Homo sapiens: one gene and its partners. The protein of the gene in region 1 purifies or fractionates together with the protein of each later gene. This does not show direct contact. Each region holds a gene or a part of one and is shown in the gene's direction. Other genes may lie near its edges. The genes, in order: ENTREP1, SIDT2, CAPN15 and SLC12A6.

Evidence for each region.
Region 2: the proteins of ENTREP1 (region 1) and SIDT2 purify together in Homo sapiens (affinity purification with mass spectrometry; 3 studies listed by BioGRID and IntAct, with this or other methods). This does not show direct contact.
Region 3: the proteins of ENTREP1 (region 1) and CAPN15 purify together in Homo sapiens (affinity purification with mass spectrometry; 3 studies listed by BioGRID and IntAct, with this or other methods). This does not show direct contact.
Region 4: the proteins of ENTREP1 (region 1) and SLC12A6 purify together in Homo sapiens (affinity purification with mass spectrometry; 3 studies listed by BioGRID and IntAct, with this or other methods). This does not show direct contact.

Annotation. Positions count from the first base shown.
Region 1 is NC_000009.12:69,383,960-69,391,740, forward strand, and holds part of ENTREP1 (endosomal transmembrane epsin interactor 1), read left to right. Parts: coding exon 1-66; intron 67-1,835; coding exon 1,836-1,988; exon of another isoform or gene 1,989-3,724; intron 3,725-4,198; coding exon 4,199-4,491; intron 4,492-7,641; coding exon 7,642-7,781. UniProt on the Homo sapiens protein: Functions as an activator of the E3 ubiquitin protein ligase ITCH in the ubiquitination of the CXCL12-activated CXCR4 receptor. Thereby, triggers CXCR4 endocytosis and desensitization, negatively regulating the CXCL12/CXCR4 signaling pathway.
Region 2 is NC_000011.10:117,181,410-117,189,190, forward strand, and holds part of SIDT2 (SID1 transmembrane family member 2 precursor), read left to right. Parts: intron 1-6; coding exon 7-128; intron 129-397; coding exon 398-562; intron 563-650; coding exon 651-696; intron 697-1,109; coding exon 1,110-1,211; intron 1,212-1,313; coding exon 1,314-1,397; intron 1,398-2,369; coding exon 2,370-2,469; intron 2,470-2,664; coding exon 2,665-2,730; intron 2,731-4,720; coding exon 4,721-4,814; intron 4,815-5,174; coding exon 5,175-5,227; intron 5,228-5,968; coding exon 5,969-6,040; intron 6,041-6,218; coding exon 6,219-6,290; intron 6,291-7,298; coding exon 7,299-7,417; intron 7,418-7,759; coding exon 7,760-7,781.
Region 3 is NC_000016.10:523,399-531,079, forward strand, and holds the start of CAPN15 (calpain-15), read left to right. Parts: upstream 1-4,313; 5' UTR 4,314-4,631; intron 4,632-7,681.
Region 4 is NC_000015.10:34,236,653-34,244,433, reverse strand, and holds part of SLC12A6 (solute carrier family 12 member 6), read left to right. Parts: intron 1-361; coding exon 362-460; intron 461-492; exon of another isoform or gene 493-1,308; intron 1,309-2,212; coding exon 2,213-2,332; intron 2,333-3,096; coding exon 3,097-3,201; intron 3,202-3,604; coding exon 3,605-3,773; intron 3,774-5,273; coding exon 5,274-5,469; intron 5,470-6,032; coding exon 6,033-6,202; intron 6,203-6,883; coding exon 6,884-7,015; exon of another isoform or gene 7,016-7,044; intron 7,045-7,618; coding exon 7,619-7,726; intron 7,727-7,781.

The DNA of each region.
Region 1 (7,781 bases):
AAATGTCAGAAGGATCAGAAGCTGCTGTGATCCCATTGGATCTGGGCTGCACACAAGTGACTCAAGGTAATAGATACATTGTGACATGATTCAGTAGATTAAAACATGATAAAATAGGCTGGGCAAGGTGGCTTATCTCTGTAATCCCAGCACTTTGGGAGGCCGAGGTGGGAGGATCACATGAGGCCAGGAGTTTGAGGCCAGCCTGGACAACATGGAGAGAGACCCTATTTCTACAAACGGAAAAAAAAAATGATAAAATAATGATCCTGTCTGGTATTGTGTTAGAGGGCAGGTATTCTTGGAGCAAATAGTTCAAGCTACACCTTTTTCTCCAGATACAAAAATACCATCAACTATTAGGGCTTATAAATGGGAGAAAATATGTGAACTGAAAAAAGATATCCTTGGAATTTTTTATGAACCAGACTATTCTCAGGAACCATGAAATAGGTTACAGAGTTTGATTGATATTCCTGTGTTTTCTGATCTATGATTTTCTTCCTCCTATTAATTAAAATTAGCTAGACTTTTGTCAGGGGAAAAAAAGTTTCCTCTATTGCAAGGTGATTTGTGGTAAGATTGTGCTGTGTCATTTATAACCTAGGGCCCAGGTCATGCTGCCCGAGCAGCTAATGAATTCTGGTTTTCAGTACTGCAGTAAGTACTAGAGTCAGTTTACATTTATCCTTGTACTTTAAGGGAACATTGTTATGGCCTTCTCTCTTTGGGGAGGTTTTAAGTGGCCCAGAGGATTGTCCACCAGGACAAAATCACAATGGTGATAAATAATGGATCAACTCTTAGCAATTTTAGATGAAGGTAATTTTTCAGCAGTACTATTTGTAATGTAATACTTTGTGTTCTGTTCACCTTCCATCCTAAGTAGAATTAATTATGAAGCAGTGTTCTGTCTCCTAAGTATGTTCATAATTTTTCCATTTTTTTTTTTTTAACTTTATTTTTATTTATTTTTTCTGAGACAGAGTTTTACTCCTTTTGCTCAGGGTGGAGTGCAATGGGACGATCTCAGTTCACTGCAACCTCCATCTCCTGGGTGCAAGTGATTCTCCTGCCCCAGCCTCCCGAGTAACTGGAACTACAGGCACCGCCACCATGCCCAGCTAGTTTTTGAATTTTTAGTGGAGATGGGATTTTGTCATGTTGGCCAGGCAGGTCTTGAACTCCTGACCTCAGGTGATCCACCCACCTCAGCCTCCCAAAGTGCTGGGATTACAGGCATGAGCCACTGCACCCAGCCAATTTTTCCATTTTTAAAAACAGTTTCTCGAATTACAACTCAGGCTCACAGTTTTATTTTCATGAGCATAAATTATCCAATTCCAGCGGGGTTTTACGGATTTGTTTAGTGGCCACTTGACTCTCTCTAACTTAGCCTTCCGGGAGTTCTGCAGCCCACAGAGCAGCCACCTCACCTGTGCTGGTATTACCTTCCCCAGAACCAGGCTTATCCTGAGATGTCAGGGTGCTTTTCAGTACTGCCCCAGAATGCTTCCCTGGAGAAGATTCTAAGCACCTTTAGGAAAAAAAAACCCCTGCCATTTTGGCATGGCTCCTTTATTTTGCTCTTGGATTTAAATTTTTCTGTTTGTTTGTTTTAGGTGTGGAGGGGTGGTTTGGAAAGGCAAGTTTTCCTGTAGTCAGTGATGTAAAAACTTACTGGGCCAGCAGCCTGAGTAAATGTTATTAACTGCATTACCCTTGCCCTGGCAGGTTTAGGCTCCCAGGTGTTTCCTGCCCATTTTGAGGACTGCAGCTGGTGAGATAATTTATGTTTCGCCTCTTTTTTTTTTTTTTTTTTTTTTTTAAATCAGATGGGGACATTCCTAACATACCTGCCGAAGAAAATGCATCCACCTCAACTCCCAGTTCAACCCTGGTGCGTCCTATCAGAAGCCGGAGAGCCCTCCCACCCTTGAGGACCAGGTCGAAGAGTGACCCTGTGCTCCATCCTTCTGAGGAGAGAGGTGATGTCATTCCCCAAGCTCTTCGCAGGGCTGTGTGCTTATTTGCCTAAAGGAGCCAGGTGAAGGCAGGTGGCTCTGGCCAGCTCAGGACCCTGCAGTTTAAGTGGTCATTTGAAGGAGCTTATGAGGTCTTGGGAAAGTAAAATATTCTACGTCCATGTTAGGAATATATATCTACCATGTCTTTTAAGGATGGTAGGGTTTTTTTGTTTTTTTTTAAAGTCATTGTCATCAAAAGAATTTGGTTGTACATGATACTATGCTAGGTACTACATGAAGACAATTATGCACACCTAGTTCTGATTTCTAGATGCTGCAATCCTATAGGAATATGCATTGTCTTAAAAAAAGTCAAAAGGATTTTTGTATACTCCCTCTTTTATAATTTGTTATATTTTTACTATGTATGAGTAGATGATTGAATTATTGAAATCTGACCTTGTTTTTAGAACTTTGGATAGAATGAAGTACACGCACCCACACAATTCACCTCTCTCTCTGTGTTGTTTGTGTATAGATGTTACCTGAATAATTAAAAATTAAAATAATAACACTGACTTTTTTCTGAATATATGAATACCTGAACATCTCTAAATATCTCTTCATTGTAGAAAATTATAAAAAATAAAGAAACTAAAGGAAGAAAATTAAAATCTCCTGTAACTCCACCAGCACCAGCTTCTTCTTGTGAAGTAGTCTAGCAGAGTTGACCTCTGCTGTTCTAAAACACCTATGCAAATAAAACTTTGATAATCCTCCACCCTGCTCTCTCTAAGGTCCTGTCTTGAGCCCTTGCAGTCTCAGTTCTGGCTCTCTGACAGTGTGTGTTATTTGCCACAGCTCTGGACTGACCATGTGCGAGCCAGAGAGAACATTCCTCTTGTCTCTACAGCAGCTTCTAAGTGGAGAGGAAGTCCTGCCGCCTGGTACTGAGCGTGTCTCTGAAACACAGTGGCCAGGCAGCCTGGCTTCTGATTCCCAAGACCTGCCTTCACTGTGGGTCTCCTACACCCTACCTGGCAAGTTGAGGACTCCAGCCTCAACGGGAACTTAGCTGTTTGCACAGCTTAGGGAAATCTTTCCAGAACCCCTTCTCATTCTGCAGACCTGCGGGGGCAAGAACAGCAGCTGCTGGAGCCCTCCATTGTGGAAGGCGCCAGGTTGCCTTCAAGTGGAAGAGTGGAGACCCTGACTCTGTCCTCACACGAGTGTCTTTGGCGAGTGCTTCTGGAAGACTCTTGCTGTCTGTGACGTGCATATGGCTGCCTGAGAGGACAGTCTCGAATCCTGGTTTAGAGCTCCCCACACCTGCCTTTCTCCAGAAGAAAGGGGGTGCTCCCCTTCTTCCACCTGCTCTCTCGCCCCCTGCTTCTTGTCTTCTTTGAATTTCTAAATTGCTGCTTATCAGGCCTTCATAGACTGAAGATGCCAATGTTGTGTATGCTGAAGGCTGCTGGCTGACTTCTGGACACATAATGACCAGATCTGAGTTTTGCTTCACACACTTCACAGTGCAGAAGCATTGCTGGTCTTTACACCCTTGCTGATATAGGCAGCCATGGAAATTAGAGCCTGCAGTGGATTTCCCAGGCTCTCTGTTGACTTCCAGAATGATGTGTACTTTTTCTGCACCTAAATTTCTCTTTTGGTAATAGCTATAGATCTACCTCATATCCATGGTGTGAGCATCGATAACACAAGTCAGTACAACGTCCTTGAGGACGTTTGGGACAAAGGTATAGTCAAAGTGATCAGAGCATTACATTCATCTGACAAGTCTTGTCTCTCTTCAGCCCCTTCCTCTCTTAATTGACTACTTCATCCTCGCTCCTTGGAACATCCTTTCATTGGTCAGCCACATTTTTCCTGCTTGGCCCATCCATCCCCATCTATTTGTCATACCCCATGAAACTTAACCTCATTATGGTTTGCATTCTGGATTCTCCTCTCCACCATCTGGCTTTACCTTGGGGGTGGTGTCGTACATGACACAATGACGTGTTTCGGGCCATATCCTATTGGAACTGGACTTCAGGGAATAACCTTGTGTTGTTTTCCCTCCTTCTGCAAGATGAAAAGCAGGATGTGCATGGCTATCAGCATTTGTCAGATGCTTTCCATGTTGAGTTTTGTGGTCTGTGCTTTCAGGTACAGGCATATGTTCAAAAGGGGTTGGCCAATGGGTACATGTTGTTTGTTTCTGCCCACAGCTGCCCCAGTGCTCAGCTGTGAAGCTGCAACACAGACTGAAAGGAGACTGGATCTGGCTGCAGTGACTCTGAGGAGAGGCTTGAGATCTAGAGCTTCGCGATGCAGACCGCGGTCTTTGATAGATTACAAATCCTACATGGACACCAAGCTGCTGGTGGCGAGGTTCCTGGAGCAGTCCTCTTGTACCATGACCCCAGACATCCATGAACTTGTAGAAAACATTAAATCTGTTTTGAAATCTGATGAGGAGCACATGGAGGAAGCCATCACAAGTGCCAGTTTTCTAGAACAGGTAGTTTTATTATTAATCTCAGGCATGAATCAGATGACTCATTTTCATAGCAGCTAAAGTGGCTTCTCCGCTTTCTTGTCCAAGGCAGAGTAAGTTCATGGTCACAGTCTTCAGGGAAATTGGGTTGAGAGTTCTGGGGAGGGAGACAGAGGAAGCCGGGGAGCTTTCTTTCAAGTGTGGTAACTTTCCCACATCATTCTTGGCTCAAGGGAAGAGAACCCAGTTTTTCTGGGATGTGGAAGCATGTCTGGGAAAATTAAAGAGTGCATCCTAGGAATAAAAGCGGAGGATGTGGACAGTGTGGAGTGCATTCAACATTTGATTTCCTGAATTGAAGGTTTCCTTTGATAGGGCATGTTTTCTCAGCCCTTTGGAAATGATGACATAGGTGAATTTTAATATCAACAAGATTCTAAGAGGCTGTTCACATTCCCATGAAATGTTTGGCAAGATAAATAAGCCAACAGGTCCTAAGGGAATAAGCACCTTTTCTTCTTGTAGATTAAAAAGTACAAGGCAATCCCCGAAACTGAAGCCACTTGGGGAAAAGATAGAATTGGGCATGAACATAATCCAGTTGGGTCTCAGGTTTCTCCTCTTTAAAGTAAATGGTTGGACTAGGTAGTCTCTCTACCTTTATTTTTGAATGAATGGAGTTTCCTTCTGGTAAGAGCCTTCTCTCCACCTCTTTTAAGAGCCATTCCCTTTTAGGTGTTGGCTTCATTGCTGCAGGTAGTGGGGTGGATGTTGTAGACAGCACCCCACAATGGCGTATGGATGTTTTGTGGCTCTGTGTCTTTGGGCATTAAATGGCTAACAAATACTTCCTCAACTGAAGTGGGCTAATTTCTCAGGGTAATTACCAACTTCAGGATGTAGGTAAATTTTCAATTCAAATTGAGTAAATACCCTCTCACTGTCCCTTCCGTTCCCCCTTTCTACCTGCTGGCCTCTTCTTACAGAAGCCAGAAGCCAAACTCTCTCCCAGTCCCTCAGGGGATTCAGCGGGGAGGAATGATCTGATTACTTGCATGAAGAGGTACATGAACCACAGACCCTCTTGGGTTTGCACTCTGAAAGAGTGATCAGTTGACGGTTCCGGGTGAGGCTCCAGTTACTAACCTATGTAGGGAAAACATTTTACATCCTGGTGTCCCTTAGCTACTCCAGATGTCATTGTCTGTCACCTTCCCTCTGTCCGGCCCCAATAGCCCAATAATCAGGAGTCACTTCTGGAAGGCTGCCAAGCTCTGATGAGCTAAGAGCTGGAGCATTCACCAGGTAGTGGGCCTGGACCTTCTGCAAAGTCTTGCTCCCTGAGAAATAGCTCTGGGGAAGAAGAACAAGCACTTATACAGTTCACTAGATGCTATCATCACAAATGTTTGCTAGATCTTTGTGCCCCAGGCAGGTTAAAACTTCAGGTGCTGAGATTGTTGTGATAGATTTTGGGCCATCTCCTGGGCCTTCCAGGACTGGAACCTAGAGGTGAGCTTTCACAATTCTATACCTTTTCCCTGGTAGAAGGAGGTAAGAACACCAGAAGGAGGTAAGGACAGCAGAAGGAGACCAGTTATTTCTGACTCTAGCTGGCTTCGCATCTTGGAGTTTTTAGATCCATTTTGATTTTCACTGATATCAAAACCACTTGTCCTAACTTACTATGTAGCACAGTCAACTTCTTTGAATGTTGAACTTTTATTCTTAATCGGGAGACAAGGACAGACCTTAAAGACAAATGTAATTAGTAGACTGTTAATAAAATTTAATTTTCCTTCTTTGGAGGAATAATCTTTTAATGACCTTAAAGGCTCAGAATGGTACAAATGAAACAAAAAGTCATCCAAATGATTGTGCTGTGATGTTAGGTAACAATAAAGCCCCAAGGTTTTCCGAAGCTGCTGACAGTATTATGGGTCAAAGAAACATGGCAGTGCAATTTTTAAAAAATTGACCGGACAGTTCTCTCCTCTTCAATCCCAGTTGGATGAGGAATTTTTCATATTTTTGCCATTTTTACAGAGTAAGTGATATTATTATATATTCAAAATTATGTTTGTGACACATTGCAAAATAGATCTAGCAAAAAGAATCATTCTTAAAGACTTTTTACAAATAAATTGGCCTAATTTTTATATTGTTTATTAAAGGATTATCAGATCCATTTGAAGCATCATTGGATGGTTTGGGTTGACTGTTTCTTTTTTGAAACAAGGTCTCCGTCTGTCACCCAGGCTAAAGTGCGGTGGTGTAGATATAGCTCACTGCAGCCTTGAAATCCTGGGCTCAGGTGATCCTCCTGCCTCAGCCTCTCAGGTAGCTGGGACTACAGGCACACACCACCACGCCCAGCCAAGTTTTCTTATTTTTAGTAGAGATGAGGTCTTGCGATGTTGTCCAGGCTGGTCTAGAACTCCTGGGCTCAAGTAATCCTTCTGCCTCAGCCTCCCAAGTAGCTGGGACTACAGGCATGAACCACCATGCCCAGCTAATTAATTTTTTTTTTTTTTTTTTGTAGAGATGGAGTCTCACTATGTTACTCAGGCTGGTCTCAAACTCCTGGGTTGAAGTAATCCTCCTGACTCAGCCTCCCAAAGTGCTGGGATTACAAGTGTGAGCCACTGCGCCTATACTTGGTTGACATTTTATAAACCCATCACCTGGTCCCAATCCCAGACCAGTGGTTCTTACTTGGATTCTTGTTAAAAATACAGATTCCTGAGCCTGAGTCCAGGCTAACTGTCCCCATTGCTATGGGAATTCTGTAGCAATTTGCTGAGAATTCATGTTTCTGACAATACCCGTCCCTCCCTGACCCAGTAGTAATGTTCAGATGCCAGCAAGGATCACTGACTTAGACTTCAGAGAAATTAGAGAAAAGCAATGAGAAGAATGTTAAAGCAAGAAATTGCAACGGACAAACCAGTTAAGTGTGGTTTACGGGTCTACAGCGGACATGGTAGAACATTTGGAGGATTTACAAAGAACCTCTGGAATTCCAAGTGAGTTCCACTTTGGGAAAATGCCTTTTTTTTTTCTTTTTCAAAGCAATTACACATTAAGATAGGTGGATGGACCTAGGAGGTAGGTCAAAGGGCCACATCTGGTAAAGCTTACTTAACTTCTCCCCACCCCTCTCTTTTCCCAAAGATAATGGCCCCATTGCAGCCCAGCACATCCAGGGCCCACAAGCTGCCCTCGCGGAGACAGCCTGGCCTGCTGCACCTCCAGAGCTGCGGCGACCTTCACACCTTCACACCAGCGGGGAGGCCCCGAGCCGAGAGGAGGCC
Region 2 (7,781 bases), on another chromosome or scaffold:
CTGCAGACAGAGGGCGTGCGTGTGTCTGTGAACGTCCTGAACAAGCAGAAGGGGGCGCCGTTGCTGTTTGTGGTCCGCCAGAAGGAGGCTGTGGTGTCCTTCCAGGTGCCCCTAATCCTGCGAGGGATGTGAGTAGGATCTGGGCATCAGGGAAGCGGGGCAGCCTAGGCCAGTCCTTGGCTGGAGCCTCAACCAGGAGCCCCCCCATTTCTCCTCCCCTTTCCCTGGGCTGGGAGGCTGGTCAACAGCACAAGGGCCGAGTCCCACCAGCCGGGAGCTTGTGCACCTCGCAGGGAGGTGGTGGAGACCAGACGGGGCGAGGTGGGGCCTCGCTCCTCTGGAGGGGCAGGCCGGCTGGGACAGTGCTCACATCCTATCTCCCTGCTTCGGGCCATAGGTTTCAGCGCAAGTACCTCTACCAAAAAGTGGAACGAACCCTGTGTCAGCCCCCCACCAAGAATGAGTCGGAGATTCAGTTCTTCTACGTGGATGTGTCCACCCTGTCACCAGTCAACACCACATACCAGCTCCGGGTCAGCCGCATGGACGATTTTGTGCTCAGGTCTGCAGGGTAGAGTGAGGGGACCACGGGGGCTGGTTCTTCCCCAGGCTCCGGGGGTGACTGGTGGGGGCTCTTCTCTGCCCTGCAGGACTGGGGAGCAGTTCAGCTTCAATACCACAGCAGCACAGCCCCAGGTAACATCTCCCTGTTGATTGCTCGAGAGGAGAAATGGGGGAGCTTGAATATGAGAATGGGAGTGGCCAGCGGTCTTTGCTTGGCCTTTTGAATTGGCTGTTTTCTCCATGGAGGGCTCTCTGGAAACAGGAGCTCTGGCCCTGACATGGTGAGGGACAGACAGCATGGGACTGTACAGAGACATGGAGTCTGGTTGCCTCTCTGGCATTCTGCTGAGTGCCCTGCTGAGGTTGAAGGGAATGGTATACAGAGAAAGGGGCTGCTGTGATCAAGGCCTGTCTCCTCGGAGAGCCTCCACTGCCCACCCCTCAGAGGATTCTGGGTCCTCGCTTATAGGGGACTATTCCCTTCTAGAGGGGCCAAGAGAGCATCCTCATGAGATGGGGCTCTCCCTTCCTTCCTGCACCCTCAGTACTTCAAGTATGAGTTCCCTGAAGGCGTGGACTCGGTAATTGTCAAGGTGACCTCCAACAAGGCCTTCCCCTGCTCAGTCATCTCCATTCAGGATGTGCTGGTGAGTTGCCTGCCCTTTTGCTCTTCCCCAGCAGGCAGCAGGGCTGCTAAAGAGAGGGGCAGGCCAGGTTCCCATCCATCTGCCTCTCCCGCCCCTCTGCAGTGTCCTGTCTATGACCTGGACAACAACGTAGCCTTCATCGGCATGTACCAGACGATGACCAAGAAGGCGGCCATCACCGTACAGGTAGGAAATGCATGTGGCCACGTGGGAGGTGTGGCTGGGCGATAAGCTGTGTAGCTTTCCAAACTTGAGCTCTTCTTCCTCTGCCCATTCCTATCCTACACACGACTGAGTCTTTGGCCTTCCAGTCCCTGTGACTTTGAGTCCCCTGATATATATGAGAGTTGTACCATAATCCCAGTTGCTCTTGGGGATGGGAAAGAGTAGAGTACCCCCTTCTGGCTGTCATACCTACTTCATTCATTGTAACAATAAGAGGGCTGAGCGCGGTGGCTCATTCCTGTAATCCCAGCACTTTGGGAGGCCGAGGTGGGCGGATCACCTGAGATCAGGAGTTCAAGACCAGCCTGGCCAACAGGCTGAAACCCCGTCTCTACTAAAAATACGAAAAATTAGCTGGGCATGGTGGCGCATGCCTGTAATCCCAGCTACTCGGGAGGCTGAGTCAGGAGAATCACTTGAACCTGGGAGACAGAGGTTGCAGTGAGCCGAGATCACACCACTGCACTCCAGCCTGGGCAAAAGGAGTGAAACTCTGTCTCAAGAAAAAAAAGGTCAGGCGCAGTGGCTCACGCCTGTAATCCCACACTTCGGGAGGCTGAGGCGGGCAGATCACCTGAGATCAGGCGTTCAAGACCAGCCTGGCCAACATGGTGAAACCCCATCTCTACTAAAAACATAAAAATTAGCTGGGCGTGGTGATGGACGCCTGTAATCCCAGCTACTTGGGAGGTTGAAGCAGGAGAATTGTTTGAACCCGGGAGGCGGAGGTTGCAGTGAGCTGAGATCATGCCATGGCACTCCAGCCTAGGCAATAGGAGTGAAACTCCGTCTCAAAAAAAAAAAAAATCTTGTGAGGATTAAGTAAAATATATCTATGAAGAATTTAGCATAATGTCTGGCCCCAGAACAAGTATTTAGAAAAGAATGATGATGATGATGATGAAGAAGATATTTATCATCATCATCCTGCAGCGCAAAGACTTCCCCAGCAACAGCTTTTATGTGGTGGTGGTGGTGAAGACCGAAGACCAAGCCTGCGGGGGCTCCCTGCCTTTCTACCCCTTCGCAGAAGGTACATTTTGTGCCCTGGGCCTGGCTAGGGATGGGGAGGTCTTGGTCACTTTCTGGGAGCAAGAAGAGCCTGCGTGGCTGATTGGTGGACCTGATAGGACATGGGTTTTTGGCTCCAGTCTCTCAAAGGCCTGATCCCACTGACTCTAGCCAAGCTCCAGGCAACTAGTTTACCACTTTGACATTTTACTTCCAGATGAACCGGTCGATCAAGGGCACCGCCAGAAAACCCTGTCAGTGCTGGTGTCTCAAGCAGTCACGTGTGAGTGCTGCAGGTGGCTGAGAGGGGATGGACAAGCCTCTCTGGCTCCTGCTTTCAGACCTGGGATATAGGGTGTGCCCTGAAGTGGGTGATGAGGATGCAGATATGCTGGTGGGGTAGGAACGGGGAGTGTTCTTGGCAGGCTTCTAGATGGGGAGGGCCGGGAGGTGAGTTCCAGTGTGATGTGGTACAGAGAGTTCATGACTAAAGATGGAAGAACTGAGGTCCAGTTCACTTTCTGCCACTTATCAGCAGTGTAACCTGATTGTAAGAAAGAGCTTTAATTTTGCTTTGTTAGCATAGTTATAATCTTATTTATTCTGAAGGATGTTTCTTAATCTCATATTCAGAAACATACCCTAATTTGTCATTGAAACACTGCTATAAGATTGAGTCTCAGTTTCCCTGTCTCTATAACAGAGGGAGTAAAATTTGTCCAGTTAATCTCACTAAGTTATGAGGGCTAGCACAAAATTAGCAGATAAAATTAGCAGGAAAGTACCAGGCCCCTACTCAGTGCTCAATAAATATTTACTGAATGATTAAATGGGGCCCTAAGGGACTGTGATAGGAGGGGAAAGAAGGTGCCTCTCTTTCTTTTTTTGAGATGGACTCTTGCTCTGTCACCCAGGCTGTAATGCAGTGGCAAGATCTCTACTCACTGCAATCTCCGCCTCCCGGGTTCAAATGATTCTCCTGCCTCAGCCTCCTGAGTTGCTGGGATTACAGGCACCTGCCGCCATGCCCAGCTAATTTTTGTATTTTTAGTAGAGACGGGGGTTTCACCATGTTGGCCAGGCTGGTCTTGAACTCTTGACCTCAGGTGATCCGCCCACCTTGGCCTCCCAGAGTGTGGGATTACAGGCATGAGCCACCGTGCCCAGCCAGAGGGTGCCTCTCTCTCTCTCTCTTTTTTTTTTTTTTTTCCGAGATGGAGTCTTGCTCTGTTGCCCAGGCTGGAGTGCAGTGGCGCAATCTCGGCTTACTGCAAGCTCCACCTCCCAGGTTCACGCCATTCTCCTGCCTCAGCCTACCGAGTAGCTGGGACTACAGGTGCCCGCCACCACGCCCGGCTAATTTTTTGTATTTTTAGTAGAGAAGGAGTTTCACCGTGTTAGCCAGGATGGTCTCAATCTCCTGACCTCGTGATCCACCTGCCCCGGCTCCCAAAGTGCTGAGATTACAGGCGTGAGCCACCGCGCCCGGCCAGGGTGCCTCTCTTACATGGATTATTTATTCAGCAAATATTTATGGAGCACCTCCTATATGCCAGGTGGTATGCTAAGGCAGCAGTCCTTGGTGGGGGCGGGGTCCTGTCTAGAGGAACAGGAGGCAGTTAAGAGCTGTGGTGAGCAAGGAACAGGTCACTGTGGAAATACAGGACAGAGAAAGCTTCCTAGAGGACACAGTCCCTGAGCTGTGGTTTGAGGGTTAAGTCAAGGTGGAATTTTTGAGAGGCCAGGCACGGTGGCTCACGCCTATAATCCCAGAACTTTGGGAGGCTGAGGCAGGGAAATTGCTTGAAGCCAGGAATTCAAGACCAGCCTGAGCAACATAGCGAGACCCAATCTCTATAAAAAATAAAAAAATGAGCCAGGCGTGGTGGCACACATCTGTAGTCCCAGCTACTCAGGAGGCTGAGGTGGAAGGATGGAGCCTAGGAGTTGGAGGCTGCAGTGAGCTATGATCGTGCCACTGCACTCCAGCATGGGTAACAGAGTGAGCCCGTCTCAAAAAAAAAAAAAAAAAAAAAAAAGTAGAAGAGAAAGTTCTAGCCCAGGGAGCAACATGAGCAAAAATAGGAGTGTGTCAGAGTTTGGTGTATTAGAGGAACTGCCAGTTGTTCATACTGGCTAGGCAGGGCCTTACATTTGAGGGGAGAAGGGTGAGAGATTGAGCTGGGTGGAGGAGGACATGAAGGCCTTTGGGTGCCATGATGGGAGGTGGTGGAAGGTTTTGACCTGTCCACCTTCCTGTTTCCTCCTTGAAGCTGAGGCATACGTCAGTGGGATGCTCTTTTGCCTGGGTATATTTCTCTCCTTTTACCTGCTGACCGTCCTCCTGGCCTGCTGGGAGAACTGGAGGTAAAGTGGAACTGCTGGGCCTCCCCTGGTCTGGGTGGTTTGGGCAGGTGTGTGGGGCAGATCACCTGGCAGGATCTGAGCCAGCCTAGGGTAATCTACACCATCCATAGCAGATGATGGTGGGGCTGTTAGAGTCTGTGGCCCATGAGCCTCTCTAGAAACCATCCCCTCCCCTCAACCTTCTTCCCAAGCAGGGAGATCCCATGTTGCTCCCCAGCCTGTGAGGAACCCTGGGACAAAGGGTGGAGGACAGGGTCATAGCGATGAGAGTGGAGCAGAGAGGTAGAAGGAAAGTCAGCCCCATACAGAGTGATCCTTGTCCTGTCCCATCTGGGTGGCCTGTGGGTTCTGTCCATGCAGGCAGAAGAAGAAGACCCTGCTGGTGGCCATTGACCGAGCCTGCCCAGAAAGCGGTACCTCCAGGGGGCCTGGGTGGGGCGGGCACAGTGTGCTTTGTGTTTTGGGGGGTGGTGGTGGATGGTTCCCTAGGGGGTTGGAGGAGGAAGGGCTGGGGGTTTCTGGATGTTCAGATGGGGGTAACACTCCACAGATGGGAATGAGGCTGGGATATGATGTCCATGCATCCCTAACATGCACACCTCAGAGGCTGAGGTGTTGCTTGGTTTATTCCATGTCTAGCGATGGTGTCTGCCTGCCTTGGGCAGTGTGGCCCACGGTCTCTGGGATTATTAACCTTTCCTTCTCTCTCTCTTCCACCCCTCCCTCTCTTTCTGTCCTCCCTCCTGCGTGGGACCTTCTCTCTTAGCTTCTCTCCTTGGTAAGCTCCAGGTGCTGTGGGCAGAGGAGCTGGAGTCCAGAGTAGGGGAGGGAGGGTGCAGCACAGGGCTGTCTGGAGGGCTCGTGGGCGGGCCAGTGTTGTCTTTGTTGCTGGTAACTTAGATGTGCCTGTTCTTGAACTTTCTCTCTCCTTAGGGAAGACAAAGGGTGGTGCTGTTTCCATGGGAGAGGCAGGCAGGGGGCTGGGGCGGGTGGTGGTGGCAGCAGTGGGGTGTGTTTGCCTGGATAGGTGCTGCTTCTCGTCTGCTGGCATGGCCTCCCTGTGGCTGTCTTCTCTGGACCTTTCTTTGTTCTTCTCCCTGGCTCTAGGCCTCTCTCTTCGTCCAGTGCTAACAGACCTTGACTTCTCATTGCAGGTCACCCTCGAGTCCTGGCTGATTCTTTTCCTGGCAGTTCCCCTTATGAGGGTTACAACTATGGCTCCTTTGGTACGTGTCAAAGCCAGCACCGTGCTTGCTGGGGACATGACCTTGTCTCCTTAGGCCACCACCTCCGAGGCGGTAAAGTGGGAGCCACCTCCTCCAGCCCCCACACCCTCTGCAGATGCTCAGAGCCCCTTTCCCTGCGGCCTCTCCTTCCTGCCTCACCACTGATCGTTCCCCACAGAGAATGTTTCTGGATCTACCGATGGTCTGGTTGACAGCGCTGGCACTGGGGACCTCTCTTACGGTTACCAGGGTGAGTGGGCCAGGCTGGGAGGGGCGGTGTGGTGCAGGACGGTGTTGTCTGGGTAAAATGTCACGGTGGGCGGTTGCCTCTTCTGCCAGATGCTGGAACCTGGGAAGGGCCTGCTGTCTTCCTAACCCCTCTCTTCCCTCATCCCCTCCTCCTTGGCCCCAGTTCCCTGGTAACTTTCCCTTTCCTTTGAAGGGCACGACCAGTTCAAGCGGCGCCTCCCCTCTGGCCAGATGCGGCAGCTGTGCATTGCCATGGGTAGACCTGGGGTGGGGGTAGGGCTGTTTTGCCAATCAGTGCCTGCCGGCTCCGGTTGACTGCCGGCTGTGGGGCCAGAAAGATTCTATGTGCATGGCTTCCCCATGTAATTCCAGTAATTGCCCGCTCTTGTGTCTTCTGAGATAGCAGCAGAGCACAGGCTCCTTTGGCTGGCGGGCTGGCGCCTCCGCTCTCTCCAGGCTGGACAATCTAGTTTATCGTCTGCGTTGCCAGCGCCCTCACTCCCTGGCCTGCTTGGGGAGGGCTCACAGGCATGGGGGTCACATTCTGGCCTCTGGATAAAGGAGAAATGCTCTTTCTGCACCCCAGGCCCACTGGGTCTTTAACCCAGTGGCAGCCAAGGCAGTGTCTTCTCAGAACCCACAGGGCTGGGCACCCTTGAATCAGCATGACTTGCCGAGTTCAATCCTGTTGTTTGTGTCTGCTGCCTGGGGTCTGCCTTGTGTCCTGGCCTGGGAAGCCCTAGCCCATGAGGGGTGCCAGGAACAGAGCAAAGCTAGAGCGGCCCCTGTGTGGTGGCCTCTTCTAGAGTCTACCATCATCCCCCAGGACTTAGGAGCACCTGATGTCTCCTCCCAGCTCCTGAGCCCACTTCCACCCCAACTCTGAGGCCCAGCCCACAATTTGCCTCTTCCCTACTGCCTAATAATTGTTACAATTGCCTCAGATGGGCGAGGGCCACTGTGGGTTTTGTGTCCACCGGTGCAACCCCTCCCTCCCTGCCCTTTCCAGGCCGCTCCTTTGAACCTGTAGGTACTCGGCCCCGAGTGGACTCCATGAGCTCTGTGGAGGAGGATGACTACGACACATTGACCGACATCGATTCCGACAAGAATGTCATTCGCACCAAGGTCTGACCCGTGGGCCTGGCCTGGTCAGGCGTTTCCTGAGAAAGGGACATTCTGCGTTCCCGCCCCAGCATGTTCCCACTGACGTGGCATTTAGGGAAGCAGAAGGAAGGGGCTCAGCTGGGGCAGGGCAGATGCCGGGGAAACTAACCTGACCTCCAACCCCTTCCGGCCTGATTGGCCAAACCCTCTTGGTCTAAGCGGCCGCAGCAGTGGGATGTCCTTGAACCCTGCCCCCCTGAATTCGGCCCTGTGTGAGGGAGGCCCCTCTTGTCCACCTCTAACCTGGGGGAGGGGGCTTCTCCCAAGTAGCAGTAAGTGGGGCTGATTCCAGCTTCTCCCCAGCAATACCTCTATGTGGCTGACC
Region 3 (7,681 bases), on another chromosome or scaffold:
TGGACCACCTGGTCCAGCATCCAGGAAGCGGACTGTGCATCTGCGGCTCTCGCTCTCCCGCCCCCCGCGCGAGATGCCCGCCTGCCTGTCACTCTCAGATGCAGATGGAGATGGAGAAACCAAGGCCCAGGGAAGCTGAGGACCCAGGTCTGCCAGTCCCCTCAGCCCAGCTGCTGCTTGCGGGCTGGTGACCAGAAGAGGACCAGGCGTGGCCTACAGTGAGGAGTCCTTGAACCCTCAGTGCAGGTGCAGCAGAATGGTTCCAGGTCACAGGGCCCAAGAACCCTGATTGCTTCATGAGTTAGAACTGAGGAGTGACAGGCCGGGCGCGGTGGCTCACGCCTGTAATCCCAGCACTTTGGGAGGCCCAGGCAGGCGGATCACAAGGTCAGGAAATCGAGACCATCCTGGCTAACATGGTGAAACCACGTCTCTACTAAAAATACAAAAAAATTAGCCGGGCGTGGTGGCCGGCACCTGTAGTCCCAGCTACTTGGGAGGCTGAGGCATGAGAATGGCGTGAACCTGGGAGGTGGAGCTTGCAGTGAGCAGCGATCACGCCACCGCACTCCAGCCTGGGCAACAGAGCGAGACTCCGTCTCAAAAAAAAAAAGAACTGAGGAGTGACATGGGCGGTGTGGGTGTGTCCAAGGCCAAGTTCCTCCTCCCAGGAAAAAGACCTGCTCTCCCACCTACCCAGGGGTCTGTGTGGTGCCAGTAAGACCCATCTCTGCCTAGAGGGAGAAGCTGGAGGTGGGGAGGGGAACTCACTCCACGCTGCCAGGCCAGAGCCAGGGAGGGGAAGGGGAGCAGCTTCCTCCTCCTGATACCCCACTGTGGTCTAGGAGCACCTCAGTTTCCACGCTAGATTTTAAACATGGGGCTGTCCACAGTCCAGCTGGCCCCACCTCGATGACCCACTGGGGTCTCCAGCCCAAAGGAGTTTGAGACAGGAGGACACAGGATGAAATGGAAACATTCCCGGAAGGGCTGCCAGAGACCTTGTGGGTGAGCGAGAGCAGGGTGGGGTGGCCGGTGTGCATGCCTGGTGGACGTGCCCAGAAGCCTGCACCCCCCAGGAGGCCCGAACGTGTCCCTCTGGAGTGTCGCCCCCACCCCCAGCTGTGCAGTGGGATGGTCACTGGGCCTGCCAAGTCTCCCAAGGCAGATCCTGTCCCCAGCTGGCTCCTGACATTGAATGTTCTGAGTCTTGGTCAGTTCTGCCCGATGGAAGAGCACCAAGGAGTCTTGCCCGGCAGGATAGAGAGGAGCGGCTCTGCCCCTGCCCTGGAACAAGAGCCCCGGACGTGGGTGCAGAGCCCCTCACATGAGGACCGCCCCATCCTGCCTCTGCTGAAGGGCAGGTATAGGAAGGCTGGACCCCCTCAGCGGCCCCCCGGATGTGGGTGCAGAGCCCCTCACATGAGGACCGCCCCAGCCTGCCTCTGCTGAAGGGCAGGTATAGGAAGTCTGGACCCCCTCAGCGGCCCCCCGGATGGCACCCTGGCCCCTCTACCTGCTGGCAGTCCAGTAACCTGGAGGTGGTGGCCCAGAGAAAGGCGGGAACTTCTCCCAGGGCCCCGTCCATTGTTATTTTCACCTGTCCGGCCGCCCATTCTTTTTTTGAGACGGACTCAGTCACCCAGGCTGGAGCGCCATGTGCCATCCCAGCTCACTGCAGCCTCAACCTCCCGGGCTCAAGTGATGCTCCTGCCTCTGCCTCCCAAGTAGCAGGGACCACAAGCACACACCACCACACCCTAATTATCTTTTAAGTGGAGACAGGTTTCGCTTTGTGTGTTGCCCAGGCTGGTGGTCCGTCGTCTTTTTGACCCAGGCCTGTGTGGCTCACAAAGCAGGCAATTGCAGGGTCATCCCATCAAATCTGAGCATGGCACCAGAGCACACAAGTCAGCCACCTGCGGGCCTTGGCACCCTCGTGCTCCACGCCAGGGTCCCTGTGTGCTCAAGTCTGGGCTCCATGATGGCACTGGGGTTTGTTCTGTTTGCTGCTTTGTGCGCGTGAGGCTTTCTCTGGGTGCCTGAACAGATGCCTCCAGTTTCAGTTCTTTCTGTTTGGCCCTCCCCATCCTCTTCTCCTCCAGGGGGGATTCATGGCTCGCCTCTTGGCTCTTCTGGGCACTTGGCGAGCTTCTGCGCACTTGCGTTAGCTGCTCAGGTCTGTCTGGATGTGAGAGTCGTGTCCTCAGGCCAGGAAGCACTGGCACGGAGCAGGGCTCGGTCAATGGTCTGGATAATCCAGAGTCACTTACCTTCTGCTGTGCAGTCATTTACAATTCACGCCTGTGTGCCTGATGTCTTGTGACTCAGAATCTTCAAGACAATCACAGGCTGGCCTCACGGAGGCACGAGTGACTCATTTCTCTCATCGCACCCATTCCCTCCAGCACTCTCCTTGTGCGGGGAAACCTCAGTCACCTTGAAGACGCCTCCTGAGGCCCTCTTCTGGGTGAATGGGCTTCCTCCTTCACCATGACAGGCTACTGGGGAGAGCTGGGGTGCTCCCACCCTCTCCTCACCCCAAATGGGCCTGGCCTAGCAAAACTGGCCAGAACTGGCCACTCTGCAGTGAGCTGGCAGGGCCCTCAGCATCAGATCAACAGGTTCAACTGCAGCTGCCTCTCTGGTGGGGAGGTTATAAGGCCTGCTGGCTAGACCACTGGCCCCTGGCCAGGGAGCCACCTAGGCAGTGCCAGGGAAGGACTGGGAAGGGAAGAGAACCTGCGGTCCCTGAGTGAGGCCTTGACTGCACCCTCTCCTGTGGTTCGAAAGCCACACTTGGCCAGTATCCTGCCATGCAGGTGAGGAAGCTGGGGAGGACAGGGTCCCAGAGCCTTGTCCAAGTTGCAGAGAGGAGAGCCAGCTCTCACTCTGCAGCCCTCTGTGCCCCCAGACCCCCACTGGCCCCCGGGGACACATTTCCTGCCCTTGGGATGCTTTGGCATGGATATAGTCTGGGAACAAACGGCACATCCAGCTGCCCTGCCTGTCTCCACAGAGGGGGCAGCAGACCTAGGGGGAGGTGTCCAAGACACAGGAATGAAGTGTCCTTACCAAAAGCTTCCGAGGACAGAAATAAACCCCTCCTGCCAGCTTCTGCACTGACTGCAGCTAGAAGCCGAGCTCCACGTGGGACACAGGTGTCCCTGCTGCGGCATCTCAGCATGACGGAGGCCCATCCTTGGCTTTCCTGGAGCATGAATATCCTCTGAGGAGCACTGGCCCTGGCCTTGTAGGTCTTGCTGAGACTGGCTTAGATTTTCTGGCCCAGGAGCAATCGTCACCCAACCTCCCACTTGTAAATCTCGCCACAGAATCGGCCCACAACCGTCTCTCCGGAATCTCGGCGGACCAGCCCTGCTCCTGTGTCTCCCTCTCCCGCAGAGCCACTGCCTTCTCAGGCTCCTCAAGTGCACCTAAGAGCGGGAGTCTGGCTGCCCTCAGCACTCGCGTCCCGCCCTGCAGCCTGATAAGCTTGACGCCAAGGCATTCTCCCGAGAGCCGGCCCAGCAGCTGCTGGCAGGAGAGTGGCCTCAGGGCAGCGGGAAGGGGACCTCCGGGGAGAGAATGAGGCCTGCGCAAGGGTCCTGGAAGGACCCAGGAGTCGCCCCGGCTTCCCTCCCCCAGGCCCTGGTTGGGCGCCGTGGGCCGCGTCCCAGTTGAGCCCGGCGTGGCCGTTTAATGGCGTCCCTCCGCGACCGAGGACGAAGGGGCCTAGAGAGGCTGTGCCCAAGCGACGCTGCGAGGCCAGGCCGCGTCTCGGGCCAGGGCGGTCCCCTTGCCACCGCCGCTCTTGGCCGCCAGGACCAAGCACAGCACGCAGCGTCGCGAAAGGGGCGGTCCTGGAAGGCGCGAAGGGGTCTCCGGGTCTCGCGAACACGGCGGGGTCGGGGCGGAGTCGTGGGTCCTCGGTCGAGCGGCCGCCCAGAGCCCCGCGGGACACGGACGGCCCCAGCCCGGCTCCCCGCGAGCCCCACGCGTCTGTGACGCCGCTGATGCGCAGACGCCGCGGCTGCAGGCCCCGCCCCTCCGTGCCCCTCGCAAGGCCCTCTGGGAGTTGTAGTTCCAGCTCCTCCTCGGGCCGCCCCACTCCCTGATAATCCTGGAGCGCGGCGCCTCCCGGGGACCGAGGCCTCGGGCCCGGCCGTCTCCAGCAGCGAGGGCAGGAGAAGTGGCCCGGGCGGTCGGCGGACTGGGAGGGCGCCACCCGAGGACTACAACTCCCGGCCTGCCTCGCGCAGGCACCGCCCCGAGCTTCCGCCCCGTCGGCGCCGCGCAGCCCTGTGGGAGCCGTAGTCCGGGCGCGCGATTCACAGCGCCGCGTGCGCCCCGGGCGCGCCGTAGCCGCGGGGCCCGGGCCGGGCGCTACGCTACGAAGGCAGCGTAAGGCGGGCGCCGGACGCGGGCAGGGGCCGGGGCCGGAGCCGGGTCGGGGCGCCCCGCGGCTGAGGAGCGGGAGGCCGTCCGGGCAGCGCGGCCGGCGGCGAGAGGGGCCCCGCCGCTCTCCGGAGGCAGAAGTTGTGGATCGGCCGGCGGGGGCGAGCGGGCCCGGGGGCCGGGGCCGCGCTGCCCGGGCCGCGAGGACGAGGCGGCGCCGCCGGGCTGTGGAGGTGAGTCCCGTCGGCCGGGCCCGGCCGGGCGCCCAGCCGGGGACCCCGGGCGGGGAGCGCGGGCCCGGAGGGCGGCGGGGAGCGCGGGCTCGGCGGGGCGCAGGAGGCCTCGGGGGCCGGGCGCGCCGGGCTCCGAGCCAGGGCAGGGACGGCAGGGCCCCCGGAGTGGGGTCAGCCCGCCGCCCGCTGGCGCCTCCAGGCTGGTGGGGGCCAGGGCTGGGCGATGCTTCGCAGAGGAACCCAGAGGAAGGCGGGAAGTCGGCAGGGACCTGGGCCATGTGGGTCACTTGAGGCCAGCCCCGGGGGCCGCGCACACCGGAGGCGGCCTCGGCCCTGCCTGCCCTTGAGTGCCCTTATATCCGGGCCCATCGTGCGGTCCTGGCCGCCTTAGGGATGTTGTGCTTGGTGCGGGCATCACTCCCCTCACTTGGGGAACGGCCTGGGGGCGGCCACCTGGCGTGGAGGGGCTGGCGGGAGCCCCGTCTGTGCCAGCCATGCCAGTGTTCTCTTCCGTGTTCCTCTGGGGCTGCTGCGGCACCAGCTGGGAAGTTGCAAATCTGCTGTCCTCCCGCTGGCTGCAGAAGGGGCCCCTCTAGTCCTGACCGGGGGAACTCTTGTGTGGTCAGCTGGCCCTGGCCGGGCGAGCTCTCGGGGCCCCCTTACTGCTCTGGAGTTTGTTACCGGACTGCAGGTAACAAGACCCGGAAAGCAATGGTGAGGCCCAGAACCTGAGGCCAGGCCTGGGTGTGTGGGGCCAGTGGGGAAGACTGGGACTCCGTTGGGTGCTGAAGAGTTGTGTGCTTCTCCTTCGGGAAACCCGGATCTCTTCCTCTGCCCAGGTCTGAGGGGTGCGGAAACGTGAGTCACAGTTCAGTGTGGGAGTGCCCCGTAATTGCCTCCGCGTTTCCAGAGTCTGGGGCTGGGCAAGGATATAGGGGTGATTCTCCCTTCCGGTTCTGAGTGACTTCTCAACTGTGAAGTGGGGCAAGAGAAATTGTTTTTCTGGCCTGTCTGGGGGAGGCAGGTCCTGCAGGAAACCAGCTTGGCCTGGCCTTGGGTTGGGTGTGCCTTGCCTCCTCCGAGGTCCTTCTGCTTGCGGGAGGAGCACCCCTCTTTTTCCTGCTTCTGTCTGTGTCTGAGGCTCTCCAGAGCTCCTTGATTGGCAGAGGAGCCAGTGACCTCTGAGTCCCCAGGAGAGCCCGAGGCTCAGTAACTGCATAACTGCGCAGGGCCTCTTGTCTGGGCCTCCACAGACCGTGGTCTCTGAGAGCAGGAAGTGGCTGGTCCCCTGTAATGCTGCATCTGTGTGACAGCCTCAAGCCCTGCTGGCTCTCTCTCCGGGCACCCCTCACTTGCTTCTTGCCCTGGCCTTGGGCAGCACTCCGGTAACCCCAGTGCCACAGGTGAGGAACCGAAGCTGGAGACAGCTGTTCATGGCAGGGGAGGGGCCGAGGGAGGCTGAGCGCCTGGTCTCTCCCTCCTGCTGGTTCCACCAGTTCACACGAGGCAATTGGAGGGAAGGATTCTGCTGCCCGGAAAATCCTCCGGAACCACAGGTGTTGTTCATGGGCCTGAGCCGCTCAGTGAAGAACTCGGCCGTTGGTGGCCGAGTTGCCCCTGGTCCAGCCCTCTGGCCCGCGGTGTGATGCCTCTACTCATGGCAACAGGCGTGGACAGGTGCTGAGAAGGAGGACGACATCATTAAACAAAACAGCTTGGGGTCTTTGAAAAACAGTGACAGAAACCCAGGAAGGCTGGTGACTTGTCAGGTCTGTGTCTGTCCTGGGTGGCCACTCGGCCCTGGACCGTGAGGCTGAAATGACAGGAGACACGGAGGGTGGGCTTGGGTGGTTTCCTCATAAGACACAGAAGAAGGAGGCCCCCAACCCGGGGGCTGCCTCGTGCGCTTTGCTCTCCTGTTTTCCTGCTCTGTCCCTCTGGTCCTGCCCTCTGACCCCTGGCACAGCAGGAGTGCCCAGAAGCCCAGTGGGACTTGTTCTCTGCCTAAAGCCCTTCCGCATCCCTCGTACCCACTCGGTGTGGATGTGGGTTTTCTCACCACCAGGCTGTGCCTCAGCTGTGTGGAGCCACTGGCCTCTCATGCCCCACGCTGGAGAGAACGCTGAGGTCTGTGCGGTTCTCATGTGACCCTGTAGCTGGTCCCTGGCTCCCCACTGTGGGATCTGCCTGCAGCACTTACACTTGGGACCGCCCTGTCTCCCTGCTGGATGTGGCGCCGAGGGCAGGGTCCGTTTCTGTTTCTTGGTAGGCCTAGTGTCTAGCGCTATGCAGCCGTGCGCAGAGCAGGCGGTCAGTGAGCACCTGGGGTTGGCCCTCACCACAGGCAGTTCTGAATACCTGGGTTCTGGCAGCCCAGGGGGACTCCTGCGTGCTCCAGGAAAGTAGCACAGCAGCCCCTGTGGCGTGGACACGGCCACACCTGAGCTCGGCCTGTTTCTGAGTCTGAGAGAACAGGCTTGCTGGCCTGTGATCTTTGCATGTGTGTCTCGCTGCAGGGAGGCTGTGGGTTGGGGCTGGACCTAGACCCGTTCAGCCACACCCTGTCACTATGTGGGTCACACACAGCTGGGTGGAGACCTCCCGGTGCGTGGCCCAGGGAGGTGTCTGGGCGTGGAGTCTGTGGACAGCCACATTGTACCACTAGGACAGGGGCTGCTGCTGGGCCCACAGGGTGCACGGAATGGGGTCTGTGGGAGGATGGGGGCATCCTAGCCCAGGGCAGGGACCCCGTGGGCCCCCCAAGATGAGCTGCGTCAGGCTGTTGCTTTGCACACTCTGAGGGGCCTGCCTGAGTGCTGCATGGGAAGCCAGCAGTGTGGCCGCCCTCCCCAGAACTCATCCAGGGCACCAGGGTGGACCCATGAGTCCCGTCGGGTCATGGGCATCAGCCTCGCCATCCTGGCCTCCAGATACAACGATTTGTCAGATTCCCTGAGGTCAAAGGGAAGCTTCAAGGGTTGCCATCCCCGCCTCCCTGGCGGTCCTAGACGGGATGTCAGGAGGACGCAGGGCCATCGCTGCTTTTTAAA
Region 4 (7,781 bases), on another chromosome or scaffold:
AAGAAGAAATGAGAGCCTGAACTAAGGTGATTAGTAGTAGAGATGAAAAGGAAGAGAAGCAGCTTAAGAGATTTTTAAATAGAATCCATAGGACTTGGTAAGTGAATTTGGAACAAGGGTAAGGAAGAGGAAACCTGGATTATCCTAAGAACAACTGGGTAAAGAGTGGTTGTGTCATTGACTGAGAGAACAGAGAAGGATGAACAGTTTTGTGGGGAGAGGTTTAAGTTTCCCTACTTCCTACTTAATCAAGGGTTAGTTGTCTAGAAACAGGCTTCAATACAGCAAAGGTATTCAGTTACTTAACCTTCAAAGAATCATCTTCCAGTAATAATCATTCCTCTTACTCTTTATTCTTCAGGTTTTTTCTCATGTGTTACCTCTTTGTAAACTTGGCATGTGCCTTGCAAACATTACTTCGAACACCCAACTGGAGACCCCGATTCCGCTACTACCATTGGTAAGTCTGCTTCTTTTATTCTTTTTACTCACGTTTGGAGAGAACCCATCTTTGAACTAGAAAACTAGGAGAGTCTGGGTTCTCGATAAAATTTTTTTCTTGGTCAGCCATTTCATACTGTTTCAACTTTCAATTCTTATCTGAATCCTCATCCTCCTATCCTATTTTCCTATATCACTTTATAATAACTTATAACACCCAATACGAATAGAGCAAAAGCACTAAATAGAGATATCCAGCCTTCTATAATTTTCAGGTTAAAACAACCTTCTCTTGCATGTTTATTTTCCTGTTTGTCTCTTAGGGTTACAGAGTCAGAGGTTCTAAATTCCAATCTCAGCTCTACTATTTCCTAGCTTTGTAACCTTCAGCAAAGCACATAACCATGTAAAATTTAATTTTATTCATTTGTAAAATGGGACTAATAAATCTAAAGTGCTTATCGTAGTGCCTGATACATAGTAAAGCTCAGCTCTCAATGAACTGTTGCTGCTGCTGCTGTTGTAGTTAAGTCTCCCCAGTCCTGAAGGGGTCATCATGAAAGATTTTTGGCTACCATCCCATCTCTTTCCTCTTATAGCTCAGAGCTCATTAATTATGTCCTGTATGTACCCGTTGCTACATTCTTCTTTGCTAACTTTCTCCTTGTTCCCTTTCTGTCTTCACTTACCAATGGTGGGCAGTGATGTAACGTTTACTGGGCAAAAATTAAAATCTTCAACTGATTTTTAATGCCTCAAATCCTCTTTCTAGCTTTAATGTTAGTTAGAAGTTCTTTATGAGGCCGGGCGTGGTGGCTCATGCCTGTAATCCCAGCACTTTGGGAGGCCAAGGCAGGCGGATCACCTAGGTCAGGAGTTTGAGACCAGCCTGACCAACATGGGGAAACCCCGTCTCTACTAAAAATACAAAAGTAGCCGGGCATGGTGGCACATGCCTGTAATCCCAGCTACTCAGGAGGCTGAGGTAGGAGAATCGCTTGAACCCGGGAGTCGGAGGTTGCAGTGAGCTGAGATCCCAGGTTCACACCATTCTCCTGCCTCAGCCTCCCGAGTAGCTGGGACTACAGGCGCCCGTCACCACACCCGGCTAATTTTTTGTATTTTTAGTAAAGACAGGGTTTCACCGTGTTAGCCAGGATGGTCTCAGTCTTCTGACCTTGTGATCCATCCGCCTCAGCCTCCCAAAGTGCTGGGATTACAGCTGTGAGCCACCGCATCCGGCCCAAAAATAATTTTTCTCAGTGAGTTCTGCAGTTATGCTAATAAGTATTTATAAAATTTTTAGAAATATTTATATGAAATTTTTTAAAAAGATCCTAGAGTTATTAACATTTCTGGCTGCGTGTCCCATCCTGGCTTTGCCAAGTAAGTATTAATTGTCCTCATAACTGCAGATGACTGATAGTGTTCCGTTATTTATATGGTTTTCCAGCAGTTGGAAACATCTTCTGTTGCAAAGGACAGTTTGGGGTTTAGTGCACATCTACCGACTGTTTCATGATAAGACAACTATAGAATTGAGAATAATCATTTAGAAACTTTTGTGGCAGTTTGACATTGCTACAGCATCCAGGCATGTGATAATTTTTCGAATAATTCATTTTTATTGCATTTTACAAAAGTTCTATTTATAATAGTTTCAAAGTTTTTAAAAAATAATACCTCACCACAGATAGTTTGAGAAGCACCTTTAACATAGGCTTCTTTTTCAGCTACTTTAAAAGATACTTTTTTGTTTTTAATTTTCTAGGGCCCTTTCTTTCATGGGAATGAGTATCTGTCTGGCTCTGATGTTCATTTCTTCCTGGTATTATGCCATTGTAGCCATGGTAATAGCTGGTATGATCTACAAGTACATTGAATACCAAGGGTGAGTGTGGATTTAATCTTGATCACTGCTAAAAGTAGCAAGACTAGCTAGTTTGGTTAGAGCCAGCTCAGTGAAAATATCTTAAGGACTCAGGTAACTTCATTTTCATAACTATATTTTGTACCCCTAATTCTTTAACCATCTTAATGATGCAAGCTTTTCATCACAAGGGAGATCCATTGAGAAAGTATGAATGGATCAATGGAAAATAACAAAGGACATTTCCAAATAATAATAATTAGTACTAAACAAAGTACAACACAAATGTAAATATTTTTGCTTATCTCTTCAGTCAAGGGGTTGTCTCTGAAATGAAAAAGAAATTAGTTCTGAACAACTTAGTAACTACTAAGACTTACAGCTTTCAAAAATGAGGACGAAATAACATTCTTATTCAGAAGATCACATTGAACTTTACTTTCTCTGCATTATTTTCAAAGTAACTTAAACTCCAGGTCTGTTATAATTTTCTAATCTAAATTGCTCTTTTACATTATTGTTTTGAACAATTACATAGAAGGACTGAATGAGTGACCCCTTCAGGCTTTATTGGGAACTGTTTGTGCAGTGCAGTCTGTTGGTGCTGTTGATCTACCTACATCAGGTTCATTATGTTAGTAAAGAACATTATGTAAATCATTAATCTGAGCTTTAATCTTCTACCTTGCACATGTGTGATTTTTAGATTCAGAAAAAAACTTTATTTTTTAAAATTATACTTACTATAGTTTAAATTTGTCTCTGCTCTTTTCTTTTTCTCACAGAGCTGAGAAAGAATGGGGTGATGGTATCCGTGGGCTGTCCCTCAGTGCAGCCCGGTTTGCTTTGCTTCGATTGGAGGAAGGACCTCCACACACTAAAAACTGGAGGTAAAGAAATCAACACTAGCAGTATTTGGCACATGGTTAACACACAAAAATATGTGTTTTGTTGATTTTAGGATAAGGAAACCATATGTGGCTCAAGGAATTGGTATAATGGACCTGTTTTGAACTATTCTAAATCCTTAATTTTTTTATTCCCTTTTCTTCATGTCGTTTATGATCAAGATTTCTACAATTTATTATTCTTCCTTGAAGACTGATCAACTTGAGATAGTACTGGGAGCATTCAAAATAATGCCCTTATCCTGTCATCTCCTGTGATCTCTTCCTTCTGTCAAATTACCTGTTTCATACAGATCTCCTGAATTAAAGGGTGGAGTCTGTCATTCTGTTCCCCAAACCCAAAATGTTTTCTCCTCCCCTCCAACCCCCACCAACCTCTTCACAGGCCTCAGTTGCTTGTATTACTGAAACTAGATGAAGACTTACATGTCAAGCATCCTCGCCTCCTCACCTTTGCCTCACAGCTCAAAGCAGGAAAAGGTCTCACTATTGTGGGCTCTGTCATCGTGGGGAACTTCCTAGAGAACTACGGTGAAGCTTTAGCTGCTGAGCAGGTAAGAGTCAGGCTTTTGAGGTATTGGAACTCAGTTTACAGCTTTGTGATGTTAAGTAGTAAGACCTCAAACTTCTACTTGAATCTTGTTCCTGAGTGATCTAGGAGGTTTCTCACTTAGTGCTGACCTTTGAAAGGACACTTTTTCCCAAATAATAAGATGAGCCAAAAATAGTTATTTATTATTTCTTCCTGTTTAAAGCATTACTAAATTATAAGATTATTAAGTCTAAACCTTATGTTCAAATATACTCCAAACATTAATCTAAGCACTGAGAAAAGTCATGTAAATAAATTGATCCCTTGAACTATGGAGAGGGTTCCTCTCAATCTTGTGACAACAAGGAGTAATGACCAAATTTTCTTCCTCTTTACTAATCTACGTGGTATCATGAGCAAGATTCCTTTGCCACTTCTGGTTAGCTGTATTGAACATTAAAGTTCTACTTTAACAAGGAAGTTGTTTTCACTCTAATACTTATTATATATGATAGAACTAATCCTATTGTTTTTGAAATGCCATTGTGTTCAATGGCATTTCAAAAGTTTTACTGTGGGGGGAGGGGGGAAGGATAGCATTAGGAGATATACCTAATGTAAATGACGAGTTAATGGGTGCAGCACACCAACATGGCACATGTATACATATGTAACAAACCTGCACGTTGTGCACATGTACCCTAAAACTTAAAGTATTTAAAAAAAAAAGTTTTACTGGATTTCATTTTGGAATCCTTTGAAATCCTAAACACTAGAAATGCTGAAGAAACATTACTCCAGAATGATGGTAAAAATTAATAAAAGGTACACAGGATTGAAAATCAGGAGAGCCTAGTTCTTAGCCGCATCACTGATTTAATCTGTGCCTTTGCAAAAATCATTCCATTTTCCATACCATTATTCCCAGGGTGGAGTAAGAGTAAATGAGATGATATCTCCAAATTGGTTTGACTAAATAAAGGAAGAGTAATGCAAATACAAGTGTCATGAATAATCACCATTAAAATGTCAAAAAGCATATGGGAATGGGAGAGGCGAAAAAGAAAACATACCTGAGAAAATTCTAAAGTGAAACTGAATCATCATACTGAGTTTCTGGTAAGATGAGTCAGGGCATGACTGGGGCTGAGGCAGGAAGGAGATCGTGTTCACAATAGTGAATCACCCTGGTCAACTGAGAAAGAATGTTGAATATTCACTTTGTAGAGATCCCTGTTCCCAGTTTTTTGGTATGGTGCAAAGGAACAAAAGCAGAACAGAGGAAAAAGCAGAGAAACTACATGTAGACAACCAGCTACAGAGGCAAAAATACGTAGTAAGCAAAAAGACAAAAGATCATGAAATTCCTTTGGGATAATTTTAACTTTTTGGACTTTTCTGTAGATGATATAGTATTATGAAGACTTTGGAAAAAGGTGGGGGATATAATATGGAGAAGGAACAATGGGTTAAAATGTCCAGAGTGAACCAGTTCAGTGTTGCGGTCCTGTGTCTCTTTCAGACCATAAAGCACCTAATGGAGGCAGAGAAGGTAAAAGGATTCTGCCAGCTGGTGGTGGCCGCCAAGCTGAGAGAGGGCATTTCCCACCTCATCCAGTCATGTGGCCTTGGGGGCATGAAGCACAACACGGTGGTGATGGGCTGGCCTAATGGCTGGCGTCAAAGCGAAGATGCCCGCGCTTGGAAGACTTTTATTGGTACTAACCATTTCTCATACAAACCTAAAGGCCCAAGTCGAGGGTATATAGTTAAATCTCTGTCACCCCCAGCCTCCTAAAGTAGAGACTATGCCATTGCTGAAGCATAGTCTTATAAGGCAACCTGAAAAACTATTGGTAGTAATACCCAGATTCTACCTACCCCCTTCAGCTTCACATTATGTTCATGAATTATTTCTGTCAAGTCTTGTGCTAGGAATTATCTCCAAAATTGCCGTGTTTTCATTTGTGATTTTCCATATTGATGTTCTCACAGGAATTGCAAGAATTGTTCTTCAGCATCATAATCTCTCAAATTCACATATCCCCCCTTAGAAATGTAGTAATGGGAATATACCTAGTAACATAAACTGTGGTTCTCAGTCTGTTAGCTATTCAGATTTTTCACAATGGTTTTTGATACGTAATGAGAAATAACCTACTAAGTAAATAGGACCCCTTGCTCAAAGAAGTGTGAAAAGAGCATTTCCTTGCTTTCCTGACATGCTAGGAAGCAAGGCAAGCCTAAGGATTCTTCTCTGCTTATTCTTTTTTCTCCCTAGGCACAGTTCGAGTGACAACTGCTGCCCATCTTGCACTGCTGGTGGCTAAAAACATCTCCTTCTTTCCCAGCAATGTGGAGCAATTTTCTGAGGGCAACATTGATGTGTGGTGGATTGTGCATGATGGGGGGATGCTTATGCTACTACCATTCCTACTGAAACAGCACAAGGTATTTTATACAACTTTTTTTTTACAAAAGTCTTTCTCCCTTCTGTCCTGGTTCACAGGACAGACAAATTCTTCCTCTGATTATAATAGTGTTGGGGTTTAGAATCAGAAGAGTTGGAAGTTATTCTAGGCTTTCCCATGATCCCACTTTCAAACAAGAGAAATCATTGTCTTTGTATTTGATACCTACTTATCTCCAAGTGAAATTCAGCCAATTAATAAAGTTCCATATGAGCCCTAGGGGAAAACAACAAGTGAACACATCTTTTTTTAAAAAATACTGAAAACTTAAGGTATATGTATATGTGTGTATTGCACGCATATATGCGCTCATTCCGTGGTAAGACTAATTAAATGAGATTTAAAATAGTAAATATATAGTCTGCATGTTGTCATTGATACACTGTCTGAATAAAGTACCCTCTTAACGTATCGTGAACCATCTTTTCTTTTGCCAGTGTTTTCTTGTTATGAAATTAAGGACTCCTTAAAACTGTATTAAATGTGGTGTTTAGTCAATCTTTTGCCCTAATACAATAACATAGCAAGTAGGAAGCTAGGAACAAATAGCCTTATACTACATATAGCAAGGTTCTTCTAGACCACAATGTCTAATGTCTTAGGAAATAACCTTTTTTGCCTCCTTGCTCTAATTTTTCACATGTGTATGTCACTCTCTCAGGTGTGGCGAAAGTGCAGCATACGGATCTTCACAGTAGCCCAATTAGAAGACAACAGTATCCAAATGAAGAAGGACCTAGCCACCTTCCTATATCACTTACGCATTGAGGCGGAGGTAGAAGTGGTGGAGATGGTGAGAAAGCTGAGTTTGAGATACAAGAGGTTCATTCCCCCATTCCTCTCCCTGTCTTCCTTGAATCTTTTCTGGTTTGGGAAATTTTTCAGATCTAAATGTGGATTAATCCCCTAGTGCCAAAAAAAAAACAAAAAAAAACCCTAATTTGTTGCCCTAAGTAGAATGTATATGTGATGCATGTTTGATGTTATTTTTTGGTTTTGCTTTCTTGTTTATTACACAGCCCTTATATTTCTGCCAGATTCTCATCTGCTTAATATAGTTTTATGAAATTTTTATTCATATATTCAGCTTAAAATCACACATGGCTTTTAAAAAAAACCTAACAGTATAAAAAAGAGAGACTGGAGTTTGTATTTTGTGTTTCAAGGCAACACATGTCTTGGTTAGATTATGGAAAAGACTCTCAGGGCCTCTGAATTTTATCTACAGTCACAAAAACATTTATGTAGCTCAATGACTAAACAAAGTAAGGGTGAAGCTTAGGTTAATATAGTGATGCTGTCCCTGGTTTAATTTAGTGACTGGAAATAAAAATGTATGGTTCATCCTTCTTTCTCCTTTGTGCTTTTTGCCCCTTTTATGTGATGTCTATGGCAGCATGACAGTGATATATCAGCATATACTTACGAGCGCACTTTGATGATGGAACAAAGGTCCCAGATGCTCCGGCACATGCGGCTATCCAAAACAGAGCGAGACAGAGAGGTGAGACATTACTGCATCAATCCAATCCGTGCTCTCTAAAGTCTGTCACTGAAAG